4 separate regions of the Homo sapiens genome follow, and all the other regions are reported to be linked to region 1. Evidence: microRNA targets listed by miRTarBase, many of them from high-throughput screens and not tested one by one. Region 1 holds a microRNA gene; each other region holds the end of a gene's coding sequence.

Region 1 (8,137 bases):
CCTCTGGCTGTTGCAGAGATGGGCCAGGATGGGGGCTCACCTGGCCGCTTGACTGGCTTCTTGGTAGGTGTGTCTTTCCTCTTGTTGGGGATAGCAGGGGAGTAGGGAACCCCAGAGGAAGAACTGCTCTTATGGAAATGCTCCTTCAGTCCTTTGATGGAGCGGTCCAGCTGGCTGGAGCGTATCTGGTAGTAGACGTTCATGAAATCTGAGGAGACACAGAGGGATAGAGGTACGGCTGCCAGGCCCTGTCTCTGCCTTGCAGACCCACCATGTCTACCTGTCAAACCTGTCAACCCTTCTTAGCATCTGCTCCCTGCTCTGGTCACAAGCCACCCATATCTTGTCCCAAATCAGGCAAAGTCTTTCAAAGTCTTTTTTTTTTTTTTTGAGATAGGGTCTTGCTCTGTTGCCCAGGCTGCAGTGCAGTGGCACGATGTCAGCTCACTGCAGGCTCGACCTCCTGGGCTCAAGTAATCTGACCACTTCAGCCTCCCAGAGTGCTGGGATTACAGGCGTGAGTCACCATGCCTGGCCAGGCAGTCTTAAAAGAGAAAAACACCCTCTGATAGAACTGATAATTAGTTGTAAGTTGTTTTTTTTTTGAGACAAGGTCTTACTCTGTCGCCCAGGCTGGAGTGCAGTGGTGTGATCTTGGCTCACCGCAAACTCTGCCTCCCAGGCTCAACCAATTATCTTGCCTCAGACTCTTGAATAGCTGGGATTACAGGCATGAGCCACTACCACCCAGCTAATTTTTGTATTTTTAGTAGAGATGGGGTTTCACCATGTTGGCCAGGCTGGTTTTGAACTCCTGACCTCAAATGATTCACCAGCTTCAGCCTCCCAAAGTGCTGGGATTACAGGCATGAGCCACCGCCCAGCCCTAGTTGTAAGCTTTTTTTTTTTTTTGAGACAGAGTTTCATTCTTGTCATCCAGGCTGGAATACAATGGCACGATCTTGGCTCACTGCAACCTCTGCCTCCCGGGTTAAAGTGATTCTCCCGCCTCAGCCTCCCAAGTAGCTGGGATTACAGGCATGAGCCATGGCGCCCAGCCCTAGTTGTAAGTTTTAAATAGTACTTTTTTTTAAATAAAAAAACAAAGTTAATATCCAGATTCAACTTGGTAAGGGGTCAAAGAACATGAGCTCTATAGGAAGCAAAAAGACAACAAATGTCAGTGAATGAAAAACACACATCTTTAGCCATTAATAAAGTATAAATTAAAAAAATTAGAGGACTGTGATAGTCCTATCAGATAGCAAAAACAAAAATTAATGAAGAACAAATGGCCATGGAACTGTCGATGAGTCCATCGATTGGCCTGATCTATTTAGAGAGGAGCTAGTGATGGCAAGAAGGTTACAAGTATCTTCAGACACTTACACCTAATCCCTGCACCCTTGAGAATAAACCCTCAAGAACTTCCTCAAAGAAAAAAGCAATTCACAAAGGTATGTCCATTTTGGTACCATTCATCAATGCTGAAAAACAGGAAGAGCTCCTTGCACACATGACTGAGGAAAAGGACATGAAAACTATGGTGGATTTCAGAAGTTCCCAACAAATAGTTTACAAGGAACCCCGACAGAAGAAATGAACCAAAACACAGAGGCACAGGCTGAGAGGTCTGGAGGCTGTCCACTGCGCCTCCCTCTTGATCCTAAGGAGCTCCTGAAAATCTTCTGCCGAGCTGTCATCAGCTCACGAGCCACAACGTGTTCATGTGATCAGATACATCGCGGCCGTGAGACCTGCCGCCACACAGTTCTGGGGCAAGGCAAGCCCGCGCTGACAACTTGGTATGTGTACACACAAACAAAGAGAAGAGTTGGAGGGCTAAAAAGTGCAACATTGCCAGGCGAGGTGGCTCATGCCTGCAATCCCAGAACTTACAGAGGCCGAGGCAGGTGGATCACCTGAGGTCAGGAGTTCAAAACCAGCCTGGGCAACATGGTGAAACCCTGTCCCTACCAAAAAATACAAAAATTAGCTGGGCATGGTGGCGGGCACCTGTAACCCCAGCTACTTGGGAGGCTGAGGCAGAATTGCTTGAACCCAGGAGGCAGAGGTTGCGGTGAGCCAATATCATGCCACTGCACTCCAGCGTGGGTGACAGAGCGAGACTCTGTCTCAAAAAAAAAAAAAAAAAAAAAAGTGCAACACTGAATATCTATTGGAGTTTTTCTTTCTTCCTTTCTTTTTTTTGAGATGGAGTTTTGCTCTTGTTGCCCAGGCTGGAGCGCAATAGTGCACTCTCACTGTAACCTCTCGGGTTCAAGAGATTCTCTTGCCTCAGCCTCAGTAATAGCTGGGATTACAGGCATGCGCCACCACGCCCAGCTAATTTTGTATTTTTAGTAGAGATGGGGTTTCTCTATGTTGGTCAGGCTGGTCTTGAACTTCTGACCTCAGGTGATCCGCCCACCTTGGCCCCCCAAAGTGCTGGGATTACAGGCATGAGCCACTGCACCTGGCCTTCTTTCTTTTGAGACAAGAGTCTCACTTTGTCAACCAGGCTGGAGTACAGTGGCGTGATCTTAGCTCATTGCAACCTCCACCTCCCAGGCTCAAGTCATTCCCCGCCACCTCAGCCTCCCAAGTAGCTGGCTCTGCAGGCATGCGTCACCACACCCAGCTAATTTTTTTATTTTTTGTAGAGACAGGGTTTTGCCATGTTGGCCAGGTCTCGAACTCCTGAGCTGAAGCGATCCACTCACCTCAGCCTCCCAAACTGTTAGGATTACAGGCATAGCCACAGCACCTGGCATAAATAAACCTTAATAGTGCTCATCTTTGGCTTATGTAATGGAGGCATCAGGGAATGGGAGATGGACTTTTACTTTTCACCCATGGCTTTGAAAATTTTACAACTAATCAAAAAAGGCAAAGGAACATAAAAATCAAGACAAGAAAAGTTTGAATTTGCCTAGATTCACCACTTGATATACAAGTCATAGAATGGTTGCTTATATTCTTATATTGGTTCCAGTTAAACATCCTTTTATCAAAAAAACCATGACAGGTGGATTAAAGAATAAAGGGGGCCAGGCATGGTGGCTCACATCTGTAATCCCAGCACTTTGGGAGGCTGAGGTGGGCAGATCACCTGAGGTCAGAAGTTCAAGACCAGCCTGGCCAACATGGTGAAACCCCATCTCTACTAACAATACAAAACTTAGCCAGGCATGGTGGCATGCGCCAGTAATCCCAGCTACTCGGGAGGCTGAGGCAGGAGAATCGCTGGAACCCGGGTATGCAGAGGCTGCAGCAAGCCGAGTTGCACCATTGCACTCCAGCATGGGCAACAGAGCAAGACTCCATCTCAAAAAAAAAAAAAAAAAAAAAAAAAAAAGAACAAAGGGGAGAAAACTCCCTCTGCCTCTGGTGTGTCATGTGGCCAAGCCAGAATCCCTTACCTTGGTTGCGGCCATATTCCACCAGCCAGCGGGAGATGCGAATGACATCCTGGAGCACGCTCTCGGGCAGGTGCTCCAGGGTCACGTCCTCCTGGGCCTCCAGATCATCGTCACCACTGATCAGATCCAAGATGAGCACGGGCGAGACGACCTTACTGTGCCGCGTCATCAGGCTGCGAAATTCGGACTCCAGGGCCTCCTTCCCGCGCTCAAAGAGCAGTTTCTGCACAGACAACAGAAGGAAGCAGGTGCCTGCTGCTTCAGTGTTCTGCCAGTCCTGGCCTTCCCCTGCCTGTGCCAGCTCTGTCTTCTTAACTCAGGGCCTCTGCCCTTTTCTGCCCTGATATCTTTTTTTTTTTTGAGAGGGAGTCTCGCTCTGTCACCAGGCTGGAGTGCAGTGACACAATCTTGGCTCACTGCAACCTCCGACTTCCTGGTTCAAGCAATTCTCCTGCCTCAGCCTCCTGAGCAGCTGGGATTACAGGCACGTGCCACCATGCCCAGATAATTTTTGTATTTTTAGTAGAGACGGGGTTTCACCATGTTGGCAGGATGGTCTTGATCTCCTGACCTCAGGTGATCCACCCGCCTCAGCCTCCCAAAGTGCTGGGATTACAGGCATGAGCCACTGCACCTGGCCTGCCCTGATATCCTTTAACCCAAAGAAGAAACGCTGGGAAGCGGCCTTGGTGACTCCTTTACTTCATGTTCTCTCAAAATTTGTGTTTACAGGTAAAACCCAGGGTTTTACAAGAAGTAGGTGCTTAATAAATACTGGCTGATTGGCCGTGCACGGTGGCTCACGCCTGTAATCCCAGCACTTTGGGAGGCCGAGGCGGGCAGATCACAAGGTCAGGAGATCGAGACCATCCTGGCTAACAAGGTGAAACTCCATCTCTACTAAAAATACAAAAAAAAAAATTAGCCGGGCGTGGTGGTGGGCACCTGTAGTCCCAGCTACTCGGGAGGCTGAGGCAGGAGAAAGGTGTGAACCCAGGAGGCGGAGCTTGCAGTGAGCCAAGATTGCGTCACTGCACTCCAGCCTGGGTAACAGAGTGAGACTCCGTCTCAAAAAAAAAAAAAAAAAAATACTGGCCGATTATTTTCTCACTGAACCGTTAATTTGTCTTCTTGTTAGTGGGGGGTTTGCAAAAGAAAATAAATAAATAAATTGAACAATATCAAGTTGAAAACTTTTGTGCTGCAAATGATACCACCAACAAAGTGAGGATAACCCACAGAATGAGAGAAAATATTTGTAAACTATGTATCTGATAAAAGACAGGTATCCCAAACATAAAAGAGAATGAATCTGTCCACACGATGACATATATAAGAGGGTTTATAGCAGCATTATTCACAAGAGACAAAAATTGGAAACAACCCAAGTGTCCATCAAAGGATAAATGGCTAAAGAAAATGTGGTCTGGCTGGGCACGGTGGCTTACGCCTGTAATCCCAGCACTTTGGGAGGCCGAGGCAAGCAGATCACCTGAGGTCAGGAGTTCAAGACCAGCCTGGCCAACATGGTGAAACCCCGTTTCTACTAAAAATACAAAAAATTAGCTCGGTGTGGTGGCAGGCACCTATAATCCCAGCTACTCGGGAGGCTGGGACAGGAGAATCGCTTGAACCCAGGAGGTGGAGGTTGCAGTGAGCCAAGATTGCGCCATTGTACTCCAGCCCGGGCAACAAGAGCATAACTCCGTCTCAAAAAACAAAACAAAACAAAAAACCAAAAAAAGAAACTGTGGTCTATCCACAAAAAGGAATATCATATGGCATGAAAATGAAATGAAGTACTGATACATGCTATAGCATGGATTGATCTTGAAAGCATCACGCTAAGTGAAAGAGGCCAGTCACAAAAGGCCATGTATTATAAGATACCATTTATATTAGAAATTCAGAATAGGCAAATCCATAAAGACAGAAAATAGATTTGTGATTTCCAGAGGCCAAGTCACCATCTTGCTCTGATGATCTAATGACCCCAAAACTTAAACACAAAAATATGATGAAGGCAGGTACAGTGGGTAATGCCCGTAATCCCTCCCAACACTTTGAGAGGCCAAGGTGGGAGGATCACCTGAGGACAGTAGTTTGAGACCAGCCTGAACAACACAGGAGACCTCATCTCTACAAAAAATTTAAAACTTAGCTGGGTATGGTTGCACATGCCTGTGGGCCCAGCTACTTGGAAGGCTGAGGTGGGAAGACTGCCTGAGCCCAGGAGTTCGAGGCTGCAGTAGCTATGGTTGTACCACTGCAGTCTGGCCTAGATGACAAAGCCAGATCCTGTCTCTTAAGATAATAATGCAAAAAAAAAAATCACATAGATTCAAGTTCCTAGAGTAGATTCACAGAAACAGAAAGTGGAATGGTGGTTACCAGAAGACAGAGGAAGGGAGAATGGGAAATTAGTGTTTGATGGGAGTGGAGTTTCACTTGGAGAAGATGAACATATTTGTGGAGATAATGGTGATGGCTACATAACATTGTGAATCTACTTAATGCCACTGTTAACTTAGAGTTAAAATAGCACATTTTGGCCAGGCACGGTGGCTCACACCTGTAATCCCAGCACCTTGGGAGCTGAGGCGGGCGGATCACCTGAGGTCAGAAGTTTGTGACCAAACTGGCTAACATGGTGAAATCCCGTTTCTACTAAAACTACAAAAAAAAAAAAAAATTAGCCGAGAGTGGTGGCGCACACCCTCCCAGCTACTCAGGAGGCTGAGGCAGGGGAATCACTTGAACCTCGGAGGCAGAGGTTGCAGTGAGCCGAGATCGTGCCATTGCACTCCAGCTTGGGAAACAAGAGCAAAACTCCATCTCAAAAAAAAAAAAAATTTATATTATGTATTTTTAACCAAAATAAAGGAACAACAAATGCATTTATAAAAATCAAACGTGGCTGGGTGCAATGGCTCACGCCTGTAATCCCAGGCCAAGGCGGGGGATCATCTGAGGTCAGGAGTTCGAGACCAGTCTGGCCAACATGGCGAAACCCCGTCTCTACTAAAAATACAAAAATTAGCCAGGTGCGGTGGCGAGTGCCTGTAATCCCAGCTACTTGGGAGGCTGAGGTGGGAGAATCACATGGACCTGGGAGGCAGAGGTTGCAGTGAGCTGAGCACTGTACTCCAGCTTGGGTGACAGAGCAAGACTCTGTCTCAGGAAAAAACAACAACAACAACAACAACAACAACAAATCAAATGTTAAGTTTATATTTTATATGTAATTTATAATTTAATTTTTATAATACATTAACAAGTTTTATAATAAAGAATTTTTAATAATAAAAAATGTGCAATTCTTGAAGCAGAGATCCTAATGCCTATAGGATGTACTGTGCTATATCCTTCTGTGTATTCTACTGCATACATCCTCAAGCTGGCTCCATGTCCCTCATGAGACCAGGGCAGAGACTGATATCCCCAAGCTTCTCACGTTATTCTGCGGACCCCTTACCACTTTGTTGAGTTCCGGGCTGTCTGGGCTGTTGTCCTGGAAATACTCCACTGCCTTCTGAATCTTGGCCATGCTTCCCAGGTACTCTTCCAGCCTACCTGTGGGGCTGGGAAAGAAAAGAGCCAGGTCAGGCTGGGGCATGGGGGATGAAGAAGGACTAAGGACACAGTATTTGGGAAAAAGAAAATTAATACAGGGGACTCCAGGCTCAAATATATTCTATCCCCCCACTGCCTTTTAAGGCCTAGGGCTTAAAAGGCGTCTCACTGTGTTGTCCAGACTGGTCTTGAACTCCTAGTCTCAAGCGATCCTCCCACCTCAGCCTCCCAAATTGTTGGGATTACAGACCAACCCTCCTGTTGGCCCAGGAGGCATTAGGAATTGACCCTCTGGGCCTCACTCACTCACCCCTCTCTGATGATCTTCTCAGTGTCACTGGCCACATGGTAGTAGCTGATGACATGGTCCAGGCAGGACAGCGTCTTCTCAACATTCTCCTGCAGCCGCTGCAGATTCTCCGTCTGCTTGTGCACAGGGATGATGGAGTTCTCCAGCTTCATAAGGCGGCTCTCAAAGGATGATAAGATAGACACCTGCGGGAGGGAAGCCTCTTGATCTTGGGACTCACAGTGGTCCCAGCACTGCTTCTACACACCCACCTTCGGCATTTCCTGCCTTTTCTCTGGTTTTCTAGACAATAAACTCCACAAGCGAAGGAACAGGGTGTACCTGTTCCCCACTGTATCTTCAGCACCTATCATGTGCCTGGCATATAGTAGGTGGTCTAAGACAAATTGGTTGAAATTTTATTTGAAGGCAAACCAAGCATCAAATTAATTCTTCTTAAAATAATCAGCCCAAGATGGCTTCCCTTCCACCCTTTGAAGCCAAATCTCAACTTCTGTTCTCTCTGAAGCATTCCTAAACCGGACTGGAAGTAGTTTCATACAGAGTAGCCTCAAATGCATTGCTGTATCTTCAAAACCCTCTCTAAGGATGAAACTCATTGAATAAGGACTAGAGGCTGGGCGTGATGGTTCATGCCTGTAATACCCAGAATTTGGGAGGCTGAGGCGGGAGGTTAGCTTGAGACTAGGAGTTCAAGACAAGCCTGGACAACACAGTGAGACCCTGTCTACACACACAGACACACACACACACACACACACACACACACACACACACAATTAGCAAGGCGTGGTGGTGTGTGCCTACAGTCCCAGCTGCTAGGAGGCCGAGG
Region 2 (8,137 bases), not on the chromosome of region 1:
GGAAAATCAGGCTTTCCTGAGAAAGCTGCAGGCTTGTTATATCAGACCTGGGCCAATGTATTGGCAGATGTATTCCTTTCCCTTTTTCTGTTCTGATCTATAATGCCCTCCTTCAGACTACGTTCCAGCTGAGTTCAGCAAATGAGATACATTTCCTGGAGAGTGAGAGAAGATGAGTGAGGGTGGGGATTGTATTCCTTCTCCTCCCTCTCTGTCGTAAGTGATGTTTCCATTAACAGCTGAAACTTCTCCCTGGATCTGGCTCCTACCAGACAGGCCAGCCAATGTTGCAGCATCTGCTTAGTGATCCTGGCTCCTTGTATTTTTGCCCTTGCATCCTAGAAGCTGTAGTGGCTTCTTGCTTTTGTTCATCTCTAAATGGTTCTCACCTTTCTCTATTTGGCATCTCTGCTGTCTATCACCTGTGCAACCAATTCCTTGCATTAAAATCTCCCTGACACATGAAATATTTGAATTGGTTTTCATTTCTCTAATTAGAAATCAGTTGAGACTTTTTAAAGAATGTTGAATTCTCAATCCTAAGCTAAAGTTATTGTATACTAAGTCAGAGAGATAGGGATGTTAGCAGGAGATATGACTGGGACCAGAGAGAATTCTGATTCTCTAGGCCCCTCCCAAGCACCTTATATAATATACTCTCTGAGGAAAGAGACAATTATTCTCAATGTAAAATGCAACTGGCATGCATCCTGAGGACAGAAGAAAGTTTTTATGTCTCTTCTCCCCCAAGCTGTTGATTCAAAAGCTCAAGGGCAAAATAATTTTTACTCTTAAGATGTTATCTATACATTTTAGTTTCTCTTCCAAGTAGAACTCATCCTTACCATTATCCTCTTCTCTTTCCACACTGAATGTTTATTGTATACACTGGAGGTGAATAAACATCTTTTGGGCTTAGGTTGCTGGTCTGTCTTCACTTGGCAAAAGAGTTTACCTCACCTAGCTGTGCTGGTCTAAGAGGTGAATGCAGCAAACAGATGAGATTTAGATTGTCTCTCTATAGGAAGAAGGTGAGTGTGTTTGGATTATTAGTGAGATTTTGTAATTTAAGATATGGGGAATACAGTGTGTATGAAAAAAAGGGCAGCCAGAAAAAGGTAGTAAATATTTGTGAGGTTTTTTTTTTTTTACATCGGTTTCTTGTATTTATTTATTTTTTTCCCTGACAATAACAACCTGATTTTCCTTTGAGAAATTACCCCTTTCTCACCCTCAGCCCATTTGGTTTCGGTGGTATTAATACTACTTCTGCCTACAGGGATAGACATTTGATTCAGGCCTGGCCAATCAGTACACTGTACCTCCTTGGCCAAAGTGATTGTTCAGGGATGGGCACACACCCTAATTAAAGTCTATGAGACACACAGTTAGGTCTTTTGAAAGGAAAACATTCACTCTGTTTATGCTGAACATGGACTTATGAGGATGTTAAATCTGGAGGTTGTCAACCACTTTGCCAATATAAGAGAAGGGCATGCCCAAGGATGGAGACAAGACACAGGGAAGCAAAGGCGAGAGACATAAAGGAACCAATTCTTGACATTGTTGAGCTGCTGTATACAGCCATACCTAAACTAAATATCTCCCAGAAGTTTTAGTTATGTTAAGCAGTACATTCTTTTTTCTAAGCCTGTTGGAGACATGTTTTCTTTCCATCCTTTCTCCCATCCTTCTATCCTCTTTTTGCTGAAAGAACCCCAAAAGAAGTTTCTATATATGTATGCAGTATTGTATATATTATTTTCTCTTTCCTACCCTTCCTCCTTCCCTTTTGCTGAAAGAATCCTAAGTATTGTAGAAAGCATTTGTATATTCTTGCACATCCTAGAGCTGAAGATGACTTACATTTGATAAAAGGGAATTTAAGATGCTATTTATGTAAACAAACAGAAGCTCTCTATTTATATTATTGCATGCAGATCAGCATTTTGGTTTTAAAAACCTAAGCAACAGCATTTTGATTTTAAAAATCTAAGGTCAATATGTTTTCTTAATTCTCATGGTACAAGGTTTTAGTTATTTTATTGCTGCCAATGAAGCTGATCCTAGGACACTCCTGGTACTTCATCTATGATATTTGGCTCTGTGTCCCTACCCAAATCTCATCTCAAATAGTAATCTCCATGTGTTGAGAGGGACCTGGTGGGAGGTGATTGGATCATGGGGTGGTTCCGCCATGCTGTTCTTGTGATAGTGCAGGAGTTCACATGAGATCTGATGGTTTAAAAATGGCAATTTCCACTGTGCATTTTCTCTCCTGCCATCACATAAGACGTATCTGCTTCCCCATTTGCCTTCCACCATGATCGTAAGTTTCCTGAGGCCTCCCAGCCATACAGCACTGTGAGTCAATTAAGCCTCTTTTCTTTATAAATTACCCAGTCTCAGGTAGTATCTTTATAGCAGCACGAGAACAGGAACTTAAGGATATTAGAAGCTGTTACACTGCCATTTACAAATCACAGAAGTTCATTAATATATACCCAATGGAGTATATTACTCAAAGTACTGATTTTCTCCTAAAATAAAATTTCTTTATTTTAGAAAGGATGCTAATGAGTCTTTTTTTGGCTAATTTTCTACTTAGTTTTGGAAGAAAATCTAACACAGGGTTTTAGAGTTGAAAGGGAATAGTGTTATTTCAGCCCCAAACCCTTTTTTTTGGGGTGCAAAAACAGTCACAGAAATGTAAAAGAGAAATTGTGGATAAAATGGTTAACAATTTGAACAGCCTTTGGCAACTAAAGGTTGGGAAGGAGCTGAGCTTTTCTCTCTTTCGTACTTACTTTTCCACTCTCAGTTCTACTTCCATGGCTACACAATGGGGTTCATAGATAATTTTGTAATTACACATTTTTCTCTTAATCTGTATATACATTATTTATTTTTTTAAAATGTGGATTTTATTTCCTATCTGACCTTCCAGGCTCATTAGAATAGGGACTATATAAAAATGTGAATTTCAGGCTGGGTGCAATGGCTCATGCCTGTAATCCCAACACTTTGGGAGGCCAAGGGGGGTAGATCATGAGGTCAGGAGATCGAGACCATCCTGGCTAACACGGTGAAACCCCATCTCTACTAAGAATACAAAAAATTAGCCGGGTGTGGTGGCGGGTGCCTGTGGTCCCAGCTACTTGGGAGGCTGAGGCAGGAGAATGGCATGAAACTGGGAGATGGAGCTTGCAGTGAGCAGAGATCACGCCACTGCACTCCAGACTGGGCGACAGAGCTAGACTCCATCTCAAAAAAAAAATTTTCAATTTCATTATAATTTCATTATTGGTTTATTAATAATGCTAATAACAAAGACAATGTCACATACTTTTTTAGTAGAGGGGAAAGGGATAATGAGAGCTTAACAACATATTTAGACAGCAGTGCAGGAGAATTTGGAATGGTTCTTCTTGCCTCCTCTAAAGACCCATCTTACTCTCAACCTCCTTGACTCTCAAGAAGGGCTGTGTAAATATGTCCAGTCGGGCTGTGTTTACCTAGCCTGTGTTCACTAGCCGGTCTGACCAAATGCCACACAGCAGGCCAGGCAAATGCCCACAGTGCCTGCGAATTAGGTTGTATTTCCCTAGTATTTAGTAGATGCCATGCATATAGAATGTTAATACAAACTTTTTAAGTCAACTAAAGAACACTGTGACAAGTCAACATTTCACTCGTTCAGAAGCTTCCGAGAGACTAAACTTGCCTTTAAGTACCCATTATTATGAATAGTTTTCAGAACTTTGTATAATGAAGCAACAATATTGTTGATAACTGAAAGTATGATTTCATACAGGATAACGATTTCTGAATTTTTTTTTTTTTTTTTTTGAGATGGAGTCTCGCTCTGTTGCCAGGCTGGAGTGCAGTGGCGCAATCTGGGCTCACTGCAACCTCCGCCTCCCGGGTTCAAGTGATTTTCCTGCCTCAGCCTCTCGAGGAGCTGGGACTACAGGCTCCCACCACCACACCTGGCTAATTCTTTGTATTTTTAGTAGAGATGAGGTTTCACCATGTTGATCAGGATGGTCTCGATCTCTTGACCTCGTTATCCACCCGCCTTGGCCTCCCAAAATGCTGGGATTACAGGCGTGAGCCATCACGCCTGGCCTACTTCTGAATTTTTTTAAACAGTTTTTTACACATGAAATTATACGCAATACAACATACTTGTTTTACAAGTTGAAATCTTTACCGTTATGGTACGTTTACAGTAATGCAGGTAACATTAGCGCATTCACTTAGAGCAGAGTTATTTATCTTCATAGGGCTTAATACAAAGCCAAGACCGAATTACTTGCTTAAACTGCTTTCTAGTCTTTGACTTAAAACAAAAAAGAAAAATTGCTTCTACCTCCTCTCTATGTCAGGATGATAAACAATGCCAACAATTAAGTGGTCTGGTATTTCTAAAAATGGCAGATTGTATTCCAATAGCTCTTAAGTTGTAAATCTTAAGGTTTTAGCTAAATATGTCTATCAAATTGTCATTATCTCTGCTTTCAGGAAAATTATGTCACCTTTGGTAATAGGCTGCTAACAAACAAACTACAGACTACACATCATGTTTTCCCAAAGAATCCTGTATTTTAATGAATAGCTGAATAAATAGACATTAATTATGAAATTCACATTAAGATAGAAGAAAATCCAAACATTCTGATTGCTTTATCTCTTAAATTTGATAACTACTACAAAACATACTATTTATGTTAGGGTAAAAATAAGCTGACTCACAGGAGTGTAACTGGGAAGTGCTGGCAGATATATACAGTAACATGGAGGAGCCATACAACAAAAGCGTTTATATGTACATCATTTTTTTTCTTTTTGTATGGAGAAATGCTGCCTTATAAAATCGGAAAACACACAGTAGACTACATGCAACAAGGACCAATACAATGTGCACAGCAGAAGAATCAAATAAGACACAAGAACTATGGGTTTAAAAAAGAATTTGGGAGCAGGACAAAAAACAAGGATTGAAACCTGGAATGCTTTCTTATTGAGGTTTCAGAATATAAATTTGTCTAACAAGCCTCTTGATAGTTTTCAAAAGTTCCCACTCAACCACCTATGGTTTAAGTGTAGAGCTAAAAATAAACCATCATATTATACAAAACTTTGCATATTAGCATACAAAAGGTAGCAATTTACTTTTTGTATAAAATATAACCTTTTGATAGTATATTTATTTCACATATGTATAAATATAACCCAAAGAATATGTTTGAAGTATTTCTACCAAAATATTCTTTACAAAAGTTTACAAAACAAGTAATTTATTTATATTTACAAACTAGCACAGGGAAGATTCTGGGCCAGTGATGTTGGTATTGTAAAGAAGGAGAGTGCTTCCAGACATTTTAAAGACTGGGAGACAGCTTTGCAGAATTTTCAAAGTGTGTTCTTTTTCTTTGAACAGATATTGAAAGACTTGATTATTAAATAACTTCAGCTAAATTACATTTGATATTTGAATATGTGAGCATAGAACTGAAAGGGCTGAAGATAACCTTTGCTCCTCTGTAATTAGGAAAATGATAGTGATATTTTGCATTCATTCCAAATCAGCACACGTCTTCCCCATTTTACAGCTGATCTGGATGTGGACACTAAGGTTAAATGACTCAACAAAAACTCTTTAATACAGTGCTCAGCCCTGAGGGACAAAACCTGGATATGAAGAGTCCATCTAGCATGTGGCAATGATTCATCACATCAGGGACAAAAGAACAAACAGAATGCTCCTAACAGACCACATTCCATTTTGTTGCTCACCCAAATCCAAATAATACGTCCAATGAAGGACAAATTGTTTTCCCTCTTGATTATGCGTTCCTTCAAACTCCGTGAAATACATTTGTACACACTGGTACTTGCCATCCCTGGTTCTTATCTCCAACCAAAACATGATATTTTCTAATCTCGGTTTTCTTCTCCAAACTTCCTTTTCTTATAAACCAGCCTCAGTCATCAAAATGAGTAGGGAGGACGAGGTTCAATTTCACTCAGCTTGGGAACAAACCAGCAGGCATCAATCATAATAAGCAACATCCCAGGTTATTTGTAGCCAAATAAATCTTATTTATAGCAATGTCCACTGGGTTTTTTAAAAAAGTGAAATCTAATGCAGAGAGGTGTGCACCAATATTTCAGTATGATTAGGACAAGTCTTTGTTATATCTAAAATTTCATTTGGAATGGATTCAGATATTCGTTGTGGAAGCCAAAATCAAATTGCACAGCTCTATATTTTTGTTTAATCACTAGACACAGCATCCCACTGAAGTAGAGGATTGTGGGAAAATTGTAAAAGTGAGGAGTGAATATGGGGAAGAAATTCTGTAATCCACTGGATGTTTTCTAGGTTCTCTGGCTTTTTCTTAATTTGCATACTGTTTGGTTACTCCAAACAAACCTATAACATTTCAATCTATCCTGCAAGCTTCAGGAAAATTAAATGAAAAGACACAATGGAAAGATTAAACCATACCTATCTATTAGAGCAAATTAAGGAGTTTGTTGCTTGGAACTAGTACCTCCTCATGACATGGGGTTTAAATAAACTACAAGTTCTATTACCTTTTTTATTTTCCAGGGAAAAAGAAACTTGGGAAGGCTATTTTACACAATTAATTACACATTGACACCACAGTTCTGTTTGGATAAATTGGATACTGTATCCTGGAGTTTAGACAGGGAAAAGTGATCCCAATATTTTACTTTCAGGTGTAAGATTTAAAACAAGAATTTGGACCAAAATGTTCATCACTGCAGTTACTTTCTGCTTTCCATTTTTAAGCATGTTATCTTCATGTAGTCCACCTGAACATCAACAGTTCAGCCTCTACAGAGTTTCTGTAATATACTGCCTTTTAGTGCTTGGAGTTTGTAAATTGTCTTCCCTTTCTTCTTTAGGAATTGTTCCCCAAGATTTCATCAAGATTGATGTCTTTCATCCAGTCATCATTACCAGGCTCTGTCTTCAATAAAGAATCAATGAAATCAGCATCACTGTTTAGGGCAGGGCCCATGTTATCATTTTGTTGGCTGAGGAAGTCAAAAGCTAAGTCACTGCTGTGGTCAGTTCCTTGAAAAGCCCTGGAACTTTGGTTGGGTGAAGGAAAATTGCTGGGCGTCAGGGATGGTGGCTGGTTGATGCCCGTCCTCGACTGATTCAACCCTGTTCCTGACTGATTCAAATTAGGCAAAATCTGTGTGCTTAGCTGATTGGGTCTGAGATTCAGACCCCTGAGGGGACCCATGGTTTGCCCATTTAGTGTTTGGCTCATTTGGTTCATGGGTCTCATTTGCACTGCTGGTGTTAACTGGTTAGGAGGAGCCACTGCCCTCTGGGAAAATTGCTGGCTACCTACTGCCTGTTGCAGTGACTGATTTGGGGTATAGGCTGCAGGTGTACCTGTGGGGAAGCGGACTCCTGCAGACGTCAGGGCTTCTTGCTGTTTGCTTGTTCCTTCTTGAGAGGCCCAGTTTGGTGCAGTTGTGTTGGATGTGATCATTACGTTTGATGTTCTCTGTGGTGGCATGCTTGCCATACTATGGGTTAAATTTGGTCTCAATTGTTGTGAATTACCAACAGATCCAGCTCCAAAAGTGGCTACATTGTTATTATTACTTGGCCCTAAGGTAGGTGGCCGTGGCATCATAGGGTTGTTTTGATTTGCTAACAATTGCTTTGGGTTTCTCTGTTGGGTCAATTGATTCATTCCTGAAGTGACACTGTATGTGTTAGGTTGATTACAAGGCAGATTTCCATACATCCCCATATTCTGAACTGCTGTAGATAATGATGGCATTCTTGTCCCGTGAGAAGTAGACAGGAGGCTGGAATTGGGAGTTAAAATGGTGTGTGTTGAAACTGGGTTTGCCAAAGCCTGGTTAGAGTTTAAGCTTATTGTGGATGAGCCACCTGAGAAAAAGAAGAGAATTTTATTAGTTCGTAGCAGCATGTTATCTCCTCTGTAACTGCACTTTTCAATAACTCATCAATCTGAAACTGCTTTCAGGTGTAAGACAATTTAGGCGAAATAATGATCAAATAAATTATATAAAAGGAACAAGACAGCTCTTAGGAGGAAGGAGCACCTGAGGTCAC
Region 3 (8,137 bases), not on the chromosome of region 1:
GGACCTTGGGCTTGGATTTGGGGTACATGGGAGATGGAGGCATCCAGCCCAGAATTGGAAGGTGTGGAGCTCTCTGTTCCCCTCTCTGGTTTGGTGGGGAAGTCCACCAGGCCAGGGCTTTAGGAAAAATAGAATTTGAGCTTAGCCTTAAGAGTCTGGTCAGGCCAAGCACAGTGGCTCACACCTGTAATCCCAGCTATTTGGGAGGCTGAGGCAGGAGGATCACTTGAATCTCAGAGTTCAAGACCAGCCTGAGCAACATAGCAAGACTCCTCCTCTAAAAAAATTGTTTTAAATTAACCACGTGTGGTGGTGCACACTTGTAGTCCCAGCTACTTGGGAGGCTGAGGTGGGAGATTGCTTGAGCCTGGGAGGTTAAGACCCACCTGGGCAGTATAGCAAAAGCCCATCTCAAAAAATTAATAAAATAAAAGAGTCTGGTCGGTATTTTAATGGGTGTTGAAGCAGCATTCCAGGCAGAGGGAACAGCACAAGTGAAGACATGAAGGTGTGAATGGTGTGTTTGGAGCTGAGGCTCCTGGAGCCCGGAAGGGTGGGGTGGGCCTAGGCAGCAGCTGGGCAATGCTTCCCTCAGACACTGAACCACATCTTCCTCTTCTCTGCCCCTCCTTTTGTGTCTGTAACTGCAGCTCAGGGAATAAGGTTGGGGGTGTGGATGGCAGGCCTTGGCCTGTAGCCACCCCAGCTTATATGCTCTGTGCTTCTTCCTGCAGGTGAAGGTGGTGAGCCTGAAGCCTGAGGTGGCCCAGGTCGACCTGTACATCCTCGGCCAAGCCGACCACTTTATTGGCAACTGTGTCTCCTCCTTCACTGCCTTTGTGAAGCGGGAGCGGGACCTCCAGGGGAGGCCGTCTTCTTTCTTCGGCATGGACAGGCCCCCTAAGCTGCGGGACGAGTTCTGATTCTGGCCGGAGCACCAGACCCTCTGATCCTGGAGGGACCAGAGTCTGAGCTGGTCCTTCCAGCCAGGCCTGGCAGCCAGAGGTGCTCCGGGATTGCAAACTCCTCTTCTCACCTGCCAAAGATGGAGAAGAGTGCCAGGGACCCCTCAAGGAGGGAGACGCTCCATATCCCAGGGCATAGGACTTGCAGGTTCCTAGGAGCAGGAGCATCTCCCATCGCACGTGCTTTCTGCTCTTCTGGGAATTTCTCACACTGGCAAAGCAGTCCAGCCTCCGTCTTCTGGTCCACTCTGCTCTGAGCAGCCTGGGATGCTGAACTCTTCAGAGAGATTTTTTTATAGAGAGATTTCTATAATTTTGATACAAGGTCATGACTATCCTAGAACTCTCTGTGGTTTTTGAAAATCATTGAATTCTATTAATGTAGGTACCTAAAGTGACCTTAACTGAATGTGGATGAGGCTGGGGCTGGTGTGGGTCTTTTGGCTGCTTTTCAAGGTGTCCCCCAATGTGGCCCTCAAGAGCCATCCCCACTGCCTGGCCAGAGCCATTGTTGTCCCCTACTTCCTAGGCCATTTCTGGGGCTTGGGGGATGAATGCTGTCCTGTGCTGTAAACACTATGCAAATGGAAGTTATCGGTTGTGGTGCTGTGCAGCGCTCTGTGGGCGACTAAGTGCCACTCACGCAGCATGTTCCTGGCAAGGAGCACATACCATCAAGCCACACTATCATGGTATTGTTCTCACAGTCTTTTGGTGGTTGATGGCCACTGCAAACCTGGCACCATCAGATCTCTTCTGATCTCTTGCCCCAGTGGGGCCTGGTTGGTAGAATGTTGGCATTCGGTTGATATCCAAAGCCTGTTCTCCCAGCCGTCCTCCTGCAGCTGGAGCCTTCAGGCCGTATTCTCACGAGGGAACGTTTGCCAAGGCTCTGACCTCACAGAAGATGCCCAGGGCCCAGAAGCCATCAGAATTATCAGTGGAGAAGCACCTTTTGACTCTTCCCTTCCAATGTAATCTCTGCCAACACCATGAGGCTTAAGGTGCTCTAAGTCATGAGTGTTTTGGTCTCAAATGCTGCAGTTTTAATAATCTGTGACTCCTGAGAGCCCATGGTTTTTTGACCTTGTGGTTCTAAAATTCCTTGTCTGACCCCTGTAGATCTTTTCCTTGCCATGTCACCTCCCTTGGCCTTTGATCCTGGAAAGGTGGCAGAGCCTCCACTGAGCCAGGCCCAGAGCTCCTTGCAGTGCCTTCTTCCTTGTTTACCTGTGGGAGGAAACACTTTTTTTGTCAGGGGCAGCCTGGTTCAGAGCTCAGAGGTCACACTGTATCAAAGATCTCAAACAGCAAAGTCAGCATTTGCTGTATAGAGCTGCCACCCAACTCTAAGCAGGAGAAACTGTACAGAAAGGGCTTTGCTATTTTTCCCTTTTGGGAAAACAATGAAGTGTTTTAAGTCCTGGGTGGACTGAGAGATGGTTTGCCTGTCCAGACTTGCTCTCAAGCCTCATCCAGAGAAGGAGCTGCAGATGAGGGAGCCCGTACACTCCCTGCCACCACTAGGTTGTAAGCCTGTAGCTGGCTGGCTGATTTCATTTTGGAATTCATTTGCCATCCACAGCCTTACACTAGGCACACACTTTAGAGTCTGGGGCTCCAGTGGGGCCCGCCTAATTTTTTTTCCCCCCAAGACAGGGCCTTGCTCTGTCTCCCAGGCTGGAGTGCAGTGGCATGATCATGGCTTACTGCAGCCTTGATCTCCCAGGCTCAAGCGATCCTTCTGCCTCAGCCTCTCTGGTAGCTGAGACTGCATGCCCAGCTCCAAATCACCTTGATTCATATCAGCAGTAATAATCACTTGTGTTCTGAAAGAAAGGGCACCAGAAGTTCTAGCAAAATTCAGTTGTGTTCTGTGAGCTAGCACTTTTTCCTCTGACCCAATTTTCTTACCTATAAAATGGTGATAAAAACCGACAGGTTGTTCAAAGGCCCAGATCAGCTAAAGCATGTATATAAGAGCACGTTGTAAACTTGAAAGAGACAAAGGCACAAATGTGGCTGTTGATTAATTTGACTGCTTCTCGTTGCTCGTCACCTCCATGCCAGGCACTGTGCTTGCTAATTGCTTTATGGGGGCATTCTCTTATTTATTCCCCAGCCCTGGGAAATAGGAGCTGTCATTATCCTTCTCTTTCTGCACAAGGAAAAATTAATGCCCTGAGAATTGTCATAATTTTCCCAAGGCTGCCCAGCTGGTGGTGTTAAGCCAGAATTTGACCTCCCAGAGCCAGTTTCCATTAGCTGCCATGCTCTGCTGCCTCTAATTCACAGAATGCACTTTCTACCCTGTGTGCCATGGAGACCTCCTATGGAAAAATGATCAGCCACCTTACCTTCTACTGGGTACCTGCTGTGAGTCTGCCTATGCCAGAAGGATTAAGGAGGGGAGGTTACCCAAGAAACAAAGCCTACATGCCGCTTACAGCCCCCGTTGGATGGTTGCTCAGTACAACAGTCTTGCATTCAGCAGGTGTTTGTTCATCACCTACTATGTGTCAGGCTCTATGCTAGGTACTGGGGATACAGGAGAGAATCAAGCGTAAAGTCTTTGTTCTCAAGGAATTTGCATTCTAGAAAGTAGAAGATGTAATAAATGTACTGTGGGACATGTTAATAAGTGCTATAAAGAAATATAAAGGGTTTGGGAGCAAAAAGAGGGAGTGGATCTATTTTAGATGAGCCCAGGTAAGACCTCTCTGAAGAGCTGTCATGAAGGAGGGAGGGAGCACATTCCTGGCAGAGAAAACAGCACGTGCAAAGGCCCCGAGACTGGAGTGTGTTCCTGAAGAGCAGCCAGGAGGCCAGCATGGCTGGAGAGGCAGGCATAGGCAGGGAACCGAGCAGCAGGTCAGAGCAGGCGAGCTGACATTCTGCAGCCTGGACGGCCATGGCAGGAAGCTTTTAGTTGGAGAGATACAGGAAGCCTCCTAGGGTTCTGAGCAGAAGAGGGGCATGAGCTGATTCACATTCTGAAGGACCTCTCTAGCTGGCCAGTGCTGAGGAGGTTGGAGAGAGAAAGGGTGAAAGCAGAGAGACCAGTGCAGGGCTGTTAACAGGGTTGCAGGCGAGAGACTGGGGTGCTGGGCTCCCCTAGACTAGGACTCCAGTGCCCTCCTCTCCCAAGAGACAAAGGCCATTGCATTGAAGGAGGTGGGAAATGATTAGATTCTGAACATATGTAATTATTTTTCAGTCTTTTTCAAAGATACAAATATTTACATAGTTTTAATCATGTAATATATACAATTTAATGTCCTAGTGTTTTACTTAATAGTGTATCATGTTTTCCCTGTTGGTATGTAGCCTGGATAAATGCTCTTAATTATAAAAAATTCTGTCGAGGAGTGTTCCATAGTTTATTGTTTTCCTATTATGAGAATTTAGGCCAAGTGTGGTGGCTCATGCCTGTAATCCCAGCACTTTGCGAGGCCGAGGTGGGCAGATCACTTGAGGTGAGGAGTTCAAGACCAGCCTGGCCAACATGGTGAATTATCTCTACTAAAAATACAAAAAAATAATAATAATAGCCAGGCGTGGTGGCACATGCCTGTATTCCCAGCTGCTTGGGAGGCTGAGGCAGGAGAATGGCTTGAACCTGGGAGGTGGAGGTTGCAGTGAGCCGAGATGGTGCCACTGCATTCCAGCCTGGGCAACAGAGCGAGACTCCATCTCAAAAAAAAGGAGACTTCATGTGCCCCCAATTTTTCACTATTGTTATTTGAAAAAATATTTTTATTTGTAAGAGTTTTTCTTTATTTAAAATGTTCATTAATAAAGTTGTTGGACGGGAAGCAAAAAAAAAAAGTTGTTTAAGATAAATTCCCAGAAGTGAATTTGTTAGATCAAACACTTAAAACTTTTTGTTATGGAAGAATTCAAATATAAATAAAAAATTGTGAGTAATAAAATGAACTCACAGTTTCAACAATGACCCACATTTTACCAGTCTAGTTGCATTGACTCTCCCACACCCAAGTCTGTTTGCTAGAGTCTTCAAGAAAACCTAAATGTGTTTTGAAAGAAGAGCCAACAGGATTTGCTGACATGCTGAATGTGGACTGGGAAGGAAAGAGGAGCCCAGGGTGCTCCAAGATTTAGGGCCCAGGCACCAGGGAGTTGTCCCTGACTTGCAGAGTGACCTTGAAGCAAATCCCTTCACCTCCGCATTCCTCACCTCAGCATTACAGGTGCTAATGGTCTAGGCAGTGCTTCCCAAAGGGTGGTCTTCAGAGGTTCCTTCCAGGGCTGGTTGATATGGCAGATTCCCAGGAGCCACCCTGAACCTGAGAATCAGAATGTCTCGGGGGTAGTGCCCAGGAATCTGCCTTTTCACAAGCACCTGCAAGTGATTTGGATGCCCAGTGGCCCAAGACCTGAAACTGTGGTCGTCAGACCAGCGGCATCAGCATCACCTGGGGGAACTTGCTAGAAATGCAGAATCCCAGGCCCCCGCCCAGAACCACTGAGTCAGGATCTCTGGGGACGCAGCCCAGGAATCTCTTAAGCTCTCTTGGGGCTAAAACTTGAGCAACACTGATCTGAAGGAAGTGGGGATCTCACTGTGTGGTCATTCAGCCCACGGTAATGGAAGACCTCTGCAGCCCCTCCCTGGCAAGCCTCACGGGTTCCACCAGGCATGGTCAACAAGGTGGCTTTAGGAACTGCCTGCTGCCCAGTTTGTACTGACCTACATCTCCTATTGTATATTTGTAGGGGCTTTACAACCAGATGATCAAATCTCATTGTTTTACGGTCAGCCCAAATTTATATATAAGAAAAGGAAGGGAAGCCTGGGCGCAGTGGCTCACTCCCATCATCCTAGCATTTTGGGAGGTTGACACAGGCCAATCGCTTGAGCCCAGGAGTTCGAGACCAGTCTGGGTAACATAGGGAAACCCCGTCTCTACAAAAAAATGCAAAAATTAGCCAGGCATGTGGCATGCATCTGTAGTCCCAGCTACTCGGGAGGCTGAGGTGGGAGGATCACTTGAGCCCAGGAGGAGGTCGAGGCTACAGTGAGCTGTGATGGCACCACTGCACTCCAGCCTGGACATTGGAGTGGGACCCTGTCTCAAAAGAGAGGAAAAAAAAAAGGGAATTCAATTTTTCAAAATTAAAAGGGAATTCCATTTTTCAAAATCTGCATCTGATTGGATAGAGAAATGGAGAAGCTGGTGTTCAAAGGAACCAAAGCTGGAAACACTGTCCTGAAACATTGTAGATCTCCAGACATTTGGAAGGGAGGGGAGAGAGAATAAGAAAATAAAGAAGAAAGAGGAGAAAGGACAGAGGGAGGAAGAAAGAGTTGAGTTCTCATTTCTATTTTCTGTTCAAAGAAGCTCAGCAAATAATCTATTAATAGTAACTACAACAAAAATAATAATAAGCTTTCACTGGCCTGAAAATAAAGATCCTTCCTCTCCTCAGTTCTCCTTCTGTCCTTAGTGGAATTGACAGAAAAAACCCATAGCCTGAAGGCAAATCCTGCACTCTGGATTATGTTGTCAAAGTGAATTCAAATTCTTGCTTGAAACCTGGTTTATTTCAGGGTTGAGACCTTTCCCTTGAAATAACATTATTTAAGGGCAAGCAGGTTTGGTTTGTTTTTACATCTAATCCTTTATTGATCATCAGCCCAGGATGCCAAGCATAACCAGGTAAACAGTGAGAATGGAAGAAACAGAAGGCATTTCCCAGAAACCCCATTCCTCAAGTGCAGTGACTCAGAACAATGCCCACCTGGGGGCAGCACCCCGGGGAGGATACCCCACCCCTCTGAAAAATCCACCTTTGCAAAAAAATTGGCAACACATTGATCCATTTGATATTCATCTCCTCCAGTGTGGGGGATGTTTTCCCCTCTCTGACACTGCACAAGCTGGTTTAGGAGGTCCTGGGCAGGCACTGGCAGAAGGCAAGAATTATCTTTTCAGTTTTTCTCAATCCTGCTAACAATGCCCAAAGAGAAAGTCTCAGTTCAGTGCTATTGTGTCATTAACTCCTCTCTACTGCTTGCTAATAATCTGTCCTTGTAACAGAGTAGACCTCAGAGTCAGACAATCTTAGTTTTCTGGAATTTAGTAACACTATTACTAAGTAAATAAATGAATTATTTATTTATTTATTTATTTATTTATTGAGACAGGTTCTCACTCTTGCCCAGGATGGAGTACAGTGGCTTGATCTTGGCTCACTGCAGCCTCAACCTCCCAGGCTCAAGCCATTCTTTCACCTCAGCCTCCCAAGCAGCTGGGATCACAGGCACGCACCACTGCACCAGCTAACTTTTGTATTTTTAGTACAGATGGGGTTTCGCTGTGTTGCCCAGGCTGGTCTCGAACTCCTGGCCTCAAGGGATCCTCCTGCCTCAGCTTCCCAAAGTGCTGGGATTACAGTGAGCCACCGTGCCCTGCCATTTTATTTATTTTTGATCCTTTGTACTTGTGTTTTTCTGTTTAAAGATGTGATTTAAAGTTTCCTTTTAAGAAACTTAGGTTACAAAAAGTGAGTTGGTTCAGAGAAAAAGTATTAAGTAGATGGTGTGGCATGAATTATGAAGATAAAGTTTGGGAGATCCTTACTCGGCTGGCCCCTGAAGATAGCTCAAAACAATACCCAAGGGGCTTTTGTGAGAGAAACTCTCCTCACTTTTCACACCTCCGCACTATTGTCTAAGCTTTTGCTCTGCTTAAAACATATCGTAAATGTTTCAAGATTCTATGAAATTCTCCTTTTCTGAGCTCCCATAGAACCTTGAAATTGTAATAATAAGTAACATGGGCTGGGCACAGTGGCCCACGCCTGTAATCCCAGCAGTTTGGGAGGCTGAGGCAGGTGGATCGCTTGAGCCCAGGAGTTCGAGACCACCCTGAGCAACAAAGTGAGACCCGCCCCCCCCTCCATCTCTACCAAAAGTCAAAAAATTAGCCAGGCATGGTGGCAAGTGCCTATGGTTCCAGCTACTCAGGAGGCTGAGGTGGGAGGATCACTTGAGCCCAAGAGGTTACAGTGAGCCATGTTTGTGCCACTGCACTCCAGCCTGGGACAGAGGGAGACCCTGTCTCAGATAATAAGTAACATGTATTAAATGACTAACATATGTCATTTACCATGTGCTACAGTGTTCTAAGCACTTTACTTCAATTAAC
Region 4 (8,137 bases), not on the chromosome of region 1:
TCTAATAATAATTGAACCTTCAATTATTATTGTATTCATTCAATTCAACTATTTTATGGTTCTCAGTTCTCCAAGGCCAAGAAGATTTCCAGGTTGGCATCCTTTAATCAGGAATAGGGACTACCACATGCAGTGCAATGAACAGCCATGTCGAGAAAAGAACAAATTGTGTCCAAATTTAAATAACAAAATGAGATACAGTGGTCCATCTAAATTCCAAAGGTATTTTTAATGCCAGAAAAAACTTCAGTAACAAATGATGAAATAATTTTTTAGAAAAATTATATGGAAATAGCTTTTTAAATTTATATTCAACAAAAATTTATTGAGCCCTTTTTACTTAGCCACTGGGGCTGTAGACATGGCCCTTATCCTCATGGAGCATACAGTCTGCTGGGAAAACCAGACATTATACAAGCAGAGAAAGTACAGACACTGTTAGGAAGAATAGAGGACATTGTGGGGACATATAGCTGGGAGCCTTAAATAAGAGGGGTCCCTGAGAAAATGATGTTTGATCTGACATCAAACCTTGAGAAATAATATTTTCTTGTACTGATAATTTTTATTGACACATAGTTGCAGTTTCTCATGTTATAGAACACACTTGGACCTTTATTTATTATATAGATCCACCCAGGAGTGATATTCAAAATATCCAATGACAAGTAAGGCAGAAGATAGGCCAGTTAGAATAGAAGCAAGCCACAGTGCTGTGTCAGGATCCTGGAAGCTGCCTTTTGTGCTGTGCATTAGCCTTTAATTGCCCAGTCATGGGGAAAGGCCTGGGCATCCTGTGAGAGGGTCTCCAGTGCAGAGGGACCACTGGGGAACCACTGTATCTCTACTGGTACTTTTCAAAAAAGCATAAATATGTCCAGTGTATTCCAAGGGACATACTTTTTAGTTGACAAACAAATTGTATATATTTATGGCACACAACATGATATTTTGTTATATGTATACATTGTGGAATACTAAATCAACTAATTAACACATCCATTACCTCAAATACTTATTTTTTGTGGTGAGAATATTTAAAATCTACTCTCTCAGCAATTTTCCAGTATATGATACATTGCTATTAACTATAATCACCATGTTGCACATAGCTCTTCTCTACTGGTACATACTGATTAGATATCAGTCCTATGCACACTTGGTTTCTCTATTGAAATTCTCTAGTCTAGTCTTGAATAGTTTAGTCAAATTCGATCTCCCAAGTTTAAATCCCTTATTATTTCAGATAGCCATATTGTACAAAACTAATCACTAAGAAAAAGTTAAAATAGTCTGAGAAAATAAGTTGCTGGTTTTAAGAAAGCATTAAATTTTAATGTGTTGGAAACCATTTTTCCACACGGTTCTTTTTTTTTTTTGAGATGGAGTCCTGTGGTGCCCAGGCTGATCTCAAACTCCTGGACTCCAGTGATCCTCCCATGTAGCTGGAAGTACAGGCACATGGCACTGCACCCAGCCTCCATATAGTTATAAAGTGTGACAGCATTAAGAATGCTTGATTTATATTTCTTAAGAAATATAATCAAGTCATTTAAAGAATTTCAATAATCTCTAAATGTAAGCAGTTCTAAGAATATATTGAATCTTTGGGTTATGATTTTATCTCATAAGTTCAGGCACCTCTTTCAATGTAAGAAAAAGTAAGACATTTTAGCATAAGGTTAAATGTATTATTGAATCCACAAAGTATCAGCAATTGGCTAGTACAAAATGAATTATGTTACTGCTTAAGAATCAAACATAAATTTATCTCCACCAGAAAAGAACAATTACACTAATTGAGCTTGGAGGTACTGTTGTATTGTTAAGTAGAATGATCTATTTAAATGAGGTCTTTTGTTTTTGTTTTTTTTTTTTTGAGACGGAGTCTCGCTCTGTCGCCCAGGCTAGAGTGCAGTGGCGTGATCTTGGCTCACTGCAAGCTCCGCCTCCCAGATTGACGCCATTTTCCTGCCTTAGCCTCCCAAGTAGCCATCATGCCCGGCTAATTTTTTTGTATTTTTAGTAGAGATAGGGTTTCACTGTGTTACCCAGGATGGTCTCGATCTCCTGACCTCATGATCCGCCCACCTCGGCCTCCCAAAGTGCTGGGATTACAGGCGTGAGCCACCACGCCCGGCCAATGAAGTCATCATTTTTACACTAGCAAAATATGGTAAGCCTGGCTTCCTGGGACTAACCCAAGCTTTGCAAAATCTAAACATTTAATGCTTAAAAAATGCAATTCTTATACTTACTAAAAGATCTTATAACTAAGGCAGAAATGCTTACATGAATAACTGATTTGGACTAAACACTGTAAACCCGTGAGTTTGTTTATGCCCTATCCTGAGGTAAATTTGGACCTTCAGTCAATTCTAGTAGAAATTTGTTCACTTCTCCCTGGTTCTTCATTTGAACATGTCAAATAGTTACAAATATTTATATGATAACCTTTTATATTATAGCTGCATCAAATACAAGCACTGTAAGAAAAGAAGGGGAAAATTGTTTTTCTTTAACAAATTATGATACAGAGTTTATGCTAAAAGGCAACTTGTGAATCTCTTTCATCCTCATATGCCTTACACCTACAAAAGAGCATTGTTACTCATTTGATAAAAGCATTATCAAATGTGTATTTTCAGAATCATTTATGAACACTGCTCTAGTAAAAATGTTAAGAGATGCATGTCACAGATATTCACATCTTAGCTCATTTATCTGCAAGTCAAAGACTAGTTTTAAGCAAAGGAGAATTACTTTGCTTAAGCAACTCCAAGTGACTGCCATTTCTAAAACCCAGGAGGGAAGTGACAAGTACTGGGACAAGCCAGAAGAAGAGTCATTTCCAGGCCTGCAAGAGCTTTTCTGGCAACCTAAATATATTGACAGAGAAGTTGTTGGGTCTCCATATTTCTTCAGTAAGCTTCCATTTGGCAGGCATACTTTAATCAAGTAGATGATTTAAGTCCAGCAAACCTGCATGCTACAAAATAATTCTGACTCAAACTTGCAGGCCTTTTCTATTTGTAGTTTCCCCCTACTCCCGTTTTACTAATAGGGAGGCAAAAATGAGTCCTTTGGACAAAGCATCTTACGTTTGGTACAGGCTTTGGAAGCTGCATTGTGGATGGGACCAAACACCAGCTTTTTGGGATCTGACAGACCAAAATGTAAATGACTGTTCCTCCATCTACAACTTGAGTAATCTGAATAAGCCATTTAACCTCTCAGAGTTTCCTTTTCTTTTTTTTTTGAGATGGAGTCTCTCTCTGTCGCCCAGACTGGAGTGCAGTGGCGCAATCTTGGCTTACTGCAACCTCCACCTCCCAGATTCAAGCAATTCTCCTGCCTCAGCCACCCGAGTAGCTGGGACTGCAGGCACATGCCACCACGCCCACTAATTTTTTGTATTTTTAGTAAAGACAGGGTTTCAACGTGTTAGCCAGGATGGTCTCGATCTCCCGACCTCGTGATCTGCCCGCCTCGGCCTCCCAAAGTGCTGGGATTACAGGCATGAGCCACTGCGCCCGGCCTCTCTCAGAATTTCTTTACTCATGATGTTGGAAAAAAATAAACTTCCTTGTTGTGAGAATTAGGAATAAGCTATGCACATGGTCCGGCAGACAGTTAGCTCTCAGTAAAGAGTAACTCTTGGTTTTGTTTGTTTGTTATGTGTTGTTTGTGTTGCTCTTGTGGTGGTTGTGGTGGTGATGATTATGGTTTTGCCCGTTCCTCATAAGAGGATCTTGTGTTTGCCTGTTCACAAGTAAACAGTGCTATAGTAGCCTGGTCCTCTTCTCATGGCCTGCACCAGTAGTTCTCCACAGTGGGTGATCTTGCCCCCTCGGGGACATATCCTACAATGCACAGAACAGCCCTCCCCCGGTAAAGAATTATCCAGCCCAAATGGCAATAGTGCTGAGGTTAAGAAATTTATTATGTTTATTTATGATAAACATAATAAACTCTAGAGGCAGGAAAACCTTAACAACCATCAGTATATTCATCACAAATTTGAAACTATACATGAAGAGAATGAAGGACCATTTTAGAAATAAGCATAAAATAAGTATGGATAACTATTAAACAGGCTGCCTGGTCAATCAGCGTGGCTGGATGTGTTCATGATATATTCTTTTTTAACAGTACATTCATTCATGCTTCAGGTACATATAGCATGATGAAGTCAATGCTCAACACCACCAACCTGAAATAAATAGTTAACTTGCCGTAGACAAAGGGGCTTTCAGTAATACCCTAAATCTCCAATTCCACGAATTAAAAATCTTAATATGGGTGTGCTACATATCTAAAAGCTGATCAGACTGGACATTTAAGATGAATACACTTTCTACACTTTAATGTATAAAAATGTTTATATATTTCAGTATATAAACATTTTATGAAAATAAATCTGTTATATAATCCAAACAGAACTGGGCTAAAGTTAGCTTTGCTTTGGAGATGACACCATATAACTAACAGTATAAACCAATTTAGAGTGTGTGTGGACCCTTCTGCACATTTGAAATACCTCTGTACATTGAAATGACTAAACTGCCTTTTCAGATCACACTTACTCAAGCCAGTCCTCTCAGCTCAACAACTTTTATTAGTGGACTATGAGTTTTAAAATAAAAAGCTCATGTGTATATATTTTTTAATTATCACAACTAACTCAGAAAGTCCTGTTCTCTTTTCAACTCAAGCTAGTGAGGTCATCCAAGTCTAAGACGATTTGATTTCTCACTTGAGGAATGGCATTTTCAAACCACTTCAAGAAACAAAGAGCTAACCTGGGGAATGTCTGAGGGTAGAAGGAAGTACAAATTGGGAAAAGGGGTAAAGTCTAGTAATAATCGGCATTCTACTCTCTCCCCCCAGTTTTTGAGCAATGTACATACAGTTTTATACTCAGGATATAAAAATGCCAAAAAATATATTTAATTGACAATAAAGTAATAATGTGGTTTTTATGCTATTTATTTGAAATAGAATTTTAGAAAATTATGCACGTGTTTAATCCTGTAAATAGTAATGAGAGAGAGCATTTGAACCGCTGAGAACCTAAACTTTCCACTTAACTTTTAATGTAGAAAGGATCGGTGCTATTGAAAAACTGTCTAACTATCCTACGAAAGTGAGACGATGGTCTTCAGGCCACAATCATGTAAGTGATGCCAACTGGGAGTAAAGAAAAATGCACTTAACATTATTAGAGATAATGTATTTTTTTAAAAAAGATTTGACAGCATAGGCAAGTCTGTGGGTGGTAAATCATGTTTGAAGGCAGAAGAGGCAACAGCAAAGATACCCAGATTCTGCTCTGTGCTTAGTTTAATAGGAAGTGAAGGGGAATTAAGGCTGAGTATAAAAAGCATCTTGAGTTGAAGCTCTTTTTTTTTTCTGTGAACAAATAAACTTTATTCAGGTATAAAAAGCAAGTGCTTTTTCAAATACGTAAAATCTAAAAAGTGTAATACCCAAAGTATTAGTCCATTCTCACACTGCTATGAAGATATACCTGAGACTGAGTAATTTATAGAGGAAAGAGATTTAATTGACTCACAGTTTAGCATGGCTGGCGAGGCCTCAGGAAACTTACAGTCGTGGTGGAAGGGGAAGCAAACACATCCTTCTTCATATGGCAGCAGGAAGGAGAAAAATGAGAGCCAAGTGAAGGGGGACACCTCTTATAAAACCATCAGATCTCATGAGAACTTACTCAGTATCATGAGAATAGCATGGAGGAAACCAACCCCATGATTCAATTACCTCTCACCAGGTCCCTCCCACAACACGTGGGGATTATGGGAACTACAATTCAAGATGAGATTTGGTTGGGGACGTAGCCAAACCATATTACTCATGGACTTATAATGAAGTAATCATTAAAGGCCTTACTTCAGTGAGGAGAGCACAGACCGAAGGAGCCAGATGGAAACCAGAATATGTGAGTCAAGAAAATGGTGAAACATGCCAGTAGGAAAATCTATCTTATCTATCTATCTATCTATCTATCTATCTATCATCTATCTATTTATCTACCTACCTACCTACAATGGTTAATTTTATGTGTCAACTTAACTGGACTAAAGGGTGTCCAGATCTTTAGTTAAACATTATTCTAGGTGTATCTGTAAGGATATTTCCAGATGAAATTAATATTTAAATCAGTAGACTAAATAAATCAGATTCTTCACCTCAGTGTAAGTGGACCTCATTCAACCAGTTGAAGGCCTGAATAGAACCTAAGGCAGTAAGGAAGAATTAATTCTCTGTCTGGCTGTCTTCAAGCTGGGACATGGGTCTTGGTGAGGTCAAGACCTTCAGACTTGGTCTCGAACTGGAACTTACACCTTCGTGTTGAAGCTCTTGATAGTCTAGTCTCTTTAACTCAGTGACAGAATTTGGTGCATCCGAGTTCCCAGAAATCAGAAGTATTGCTGCTTAGAAAGCCACAGCATGGCCTCAGCAAAGGCTGAGAAGGAATGACTGAAATCTACAAGGTTGTAAAGAATATCATTAACAAGGTAAATAAGAAAAACCTTGAAAAAGGAGGGTCAAATTCAAATTTAAAACCCTATTTTAAACAGTAGGGGAAGAACTTAAAAATCTCACCAACCTAGTAAAAATAGGAAATTTATATAATTTCATTTCAATGTTGGTGAATTCATAGATTATAGATACATAGAGAATTTTAGGGAAAACTGTGATGAGCTGGGGATAATCTTCCAAGTTAAGGTGAAGGAAGAGTCTGGGCAAATAGGGGTGACTGTGTTTATCCCTTTAACAAGTATTGACTGTGCCCCATCACATGCCAAGCACTAGGCTGCATGCCCGCAATAACACACTCCCTGCCTCAAGCAGGGCACAGGCTAGCAGGAGACTGGATGAGTAAACTCATGATTAGAATTATGGACATGCTGCATTCTGCAAATATTTTCTTGTGCTCTTGATGACATCCTGCATCCTATTTCCATCTTGTATTCACCCAACTCAGAGTATAACAGCTACTTGCATTGAAAATGTCTTTCTTCAAGAATAGCTGAGGTTTAGATAAGTCTTTGTAACTGTGAAAAAGCCTGAAATCCTTTTGTTCTAACTCTTTGAGAAGGCTGTACCAGAACCGCACAACGCTGCTGTCACTGCCACTGACCTCAAACCCAGGCCAGTGGAGATGGATCTCAAAGATGAGCTGTCCAATCTGCTCAAGAACATCTTCCAGAATAAGATTTTCCAAAACTTTCCATTCTGCACTTTCCAGATCTGCCTTGAGAACGTCAATCTGTAACAAAGCAATGAAATGAGATTAGCAGATTTAGTAAAACTATCTTGATATCAGGAGTTTCACATTATAGCTACCTCTGAAGGAAACAGAATTTTTAAAATTTTAGAGCTGAGGGTGGTTTTCAAGTGGCCATTTGCATTTATGACATGAATTTCTAACCCCATTCCCTACTAAATGTTTTGGTTTTTTGTTCTTGTTTTTAAGAGATGGGGGTCTCGATATGTTGCCTAGGCTGGTATAAAACTCCTGGTTCAAGCAATCCTCCTGCCTCCGCCTCCTGAGTAGCTGGGACTACAGGCGTGAGCCTGTTATGTTAATATATGTTAATATACAAATGATGAAATACCAGGCAAAAATCACAACAGACCCTCTTGCTTTCTGCCCAGTGGGAATGGATATCTGAGAAGGAGAAGTTAGAGTGAGTGTATCACAGACCTCTGTGTACCCCACAAACTATGCCACCCCAGGAAACTCTGCCAAGTCCTGACAGAAGGTGTCTATAGAAAGGAAGTGACAAAGGGCTACTGCCTGCAGGGACTATCTTGCAGGCCTCATCCCCCCAACCCCAACTTCATCGAGACTGGACATCAATGAAAAAGTTATTGAGTATCTGAATATTGGACTATAAAAAAATAATATTATTATTCTATGATTTCTTTACAATGTATATACCAGTATAGCATTCTTAAAAAAAAAAAAAGCAGTAACACCATCCTCTGCTTATTTAATGAACACAAGTTCACATTCAAGTGAGACAGAATAAAGGAAGAAGAGGATTGTAATATCAATATTTTGCAAATTAATCAAGTTATGAGAATCAGCTCCTTTTCGCTGCCTGTG

The links. Region 1 holds the annotated microRNA hsa-miR-6868-3p (UUCCUUCUGUUGUCUGUGCAG, at 3,646-3,666, opposite strand). A microRNA usually pairs through its seed, bases 2 to 8, with sites in the 3' UTR of a target mRNA and lowers its output. Matches are read on the target gene's strand: a 7mer-m8 pairs with bases 2 to 8, a 7mer-A1 pairs with bases 2 to 7 and ends in A, and an 8mer does both.
Region 2: miRTarBase lists MAML2 as a target of hsa-miR-6868-3p. Seed matches in the 3' UTR shown: 7mer-A1 at 5,857-5,863.
Region 3: the mRNA of POFUT1 is a reported target of hsa-miR-6868-3p. Seed matches in the 3' UTR shown: 7mer-m8 at 2,445-2,451 and 7mer-m8 at 3,359-3,365.
Region 4: miRTarBase lists METTL24 as a target of hsa-miR-6868-3p. Seed matches in the 3' UTR shown: 7mer-m8 at 5,640-5,646.

What each region holds. Positions count from the first base shown.
Region 1 is chr17:76,094,374-76,102,510 of GRCh38, forward strand. It overlaps MIR6868 (microRNA 6868), which reads right to left and starts at 3,703; the gene lies at 3,646-3,703. EXOC7 (exocyst complex component 7) reads right to left here. Exons shown (of 19, transcript NM_001013839.4): 3 at 7,306-7,490; 4 at 6,898-7,003; 5 at 3,423-3,645; 6 at 41-208.
Region 2 is chr11:95,972,013-95,980,149 of GRCh38, forward strand. It overlaps MAML2 (mastermind like transcriptional coactivator 2), which reads right to left. Exons shown (of 5, transcript NM_032427.4): 5 at 4,586-7,951. The coding sequence ends at 6,936. Among named protein-coding and RNA genes, the nearest start is that of MTMR2, 52 kb to the left of the region's middle.
Region 3 is chr20:32,233,739-32,241,875 of GRCh38, forward strand. It overlaps POFUT1 (protein O-fucosyltransferase 1), which reads left to right. Exons shown (of 7, transcript NM_015352.2): 7 at 735-4,920. The coding sequence ends at 923. It overlaps MIR1825 (microRNA 1825), which reads left to right and starts at 4,057; the gene lies at 4,057-4,109.
Region 4 is chr6:110,238,967-110,247,103 of GRCh38, forward strand. METTL24 (methyltransferase like 24) reads right to left here. Exons shown (of 5, transcript NM_001123364.3): 5 at 4,974-7,294. The coding sequence ends at 6,980. LOC105377937 (a long non-coding RNA gene) reads left to right here and starts at 5,104. Exons shown (of 2, transcript XR_942858.3): 1 at 5,104-5,176.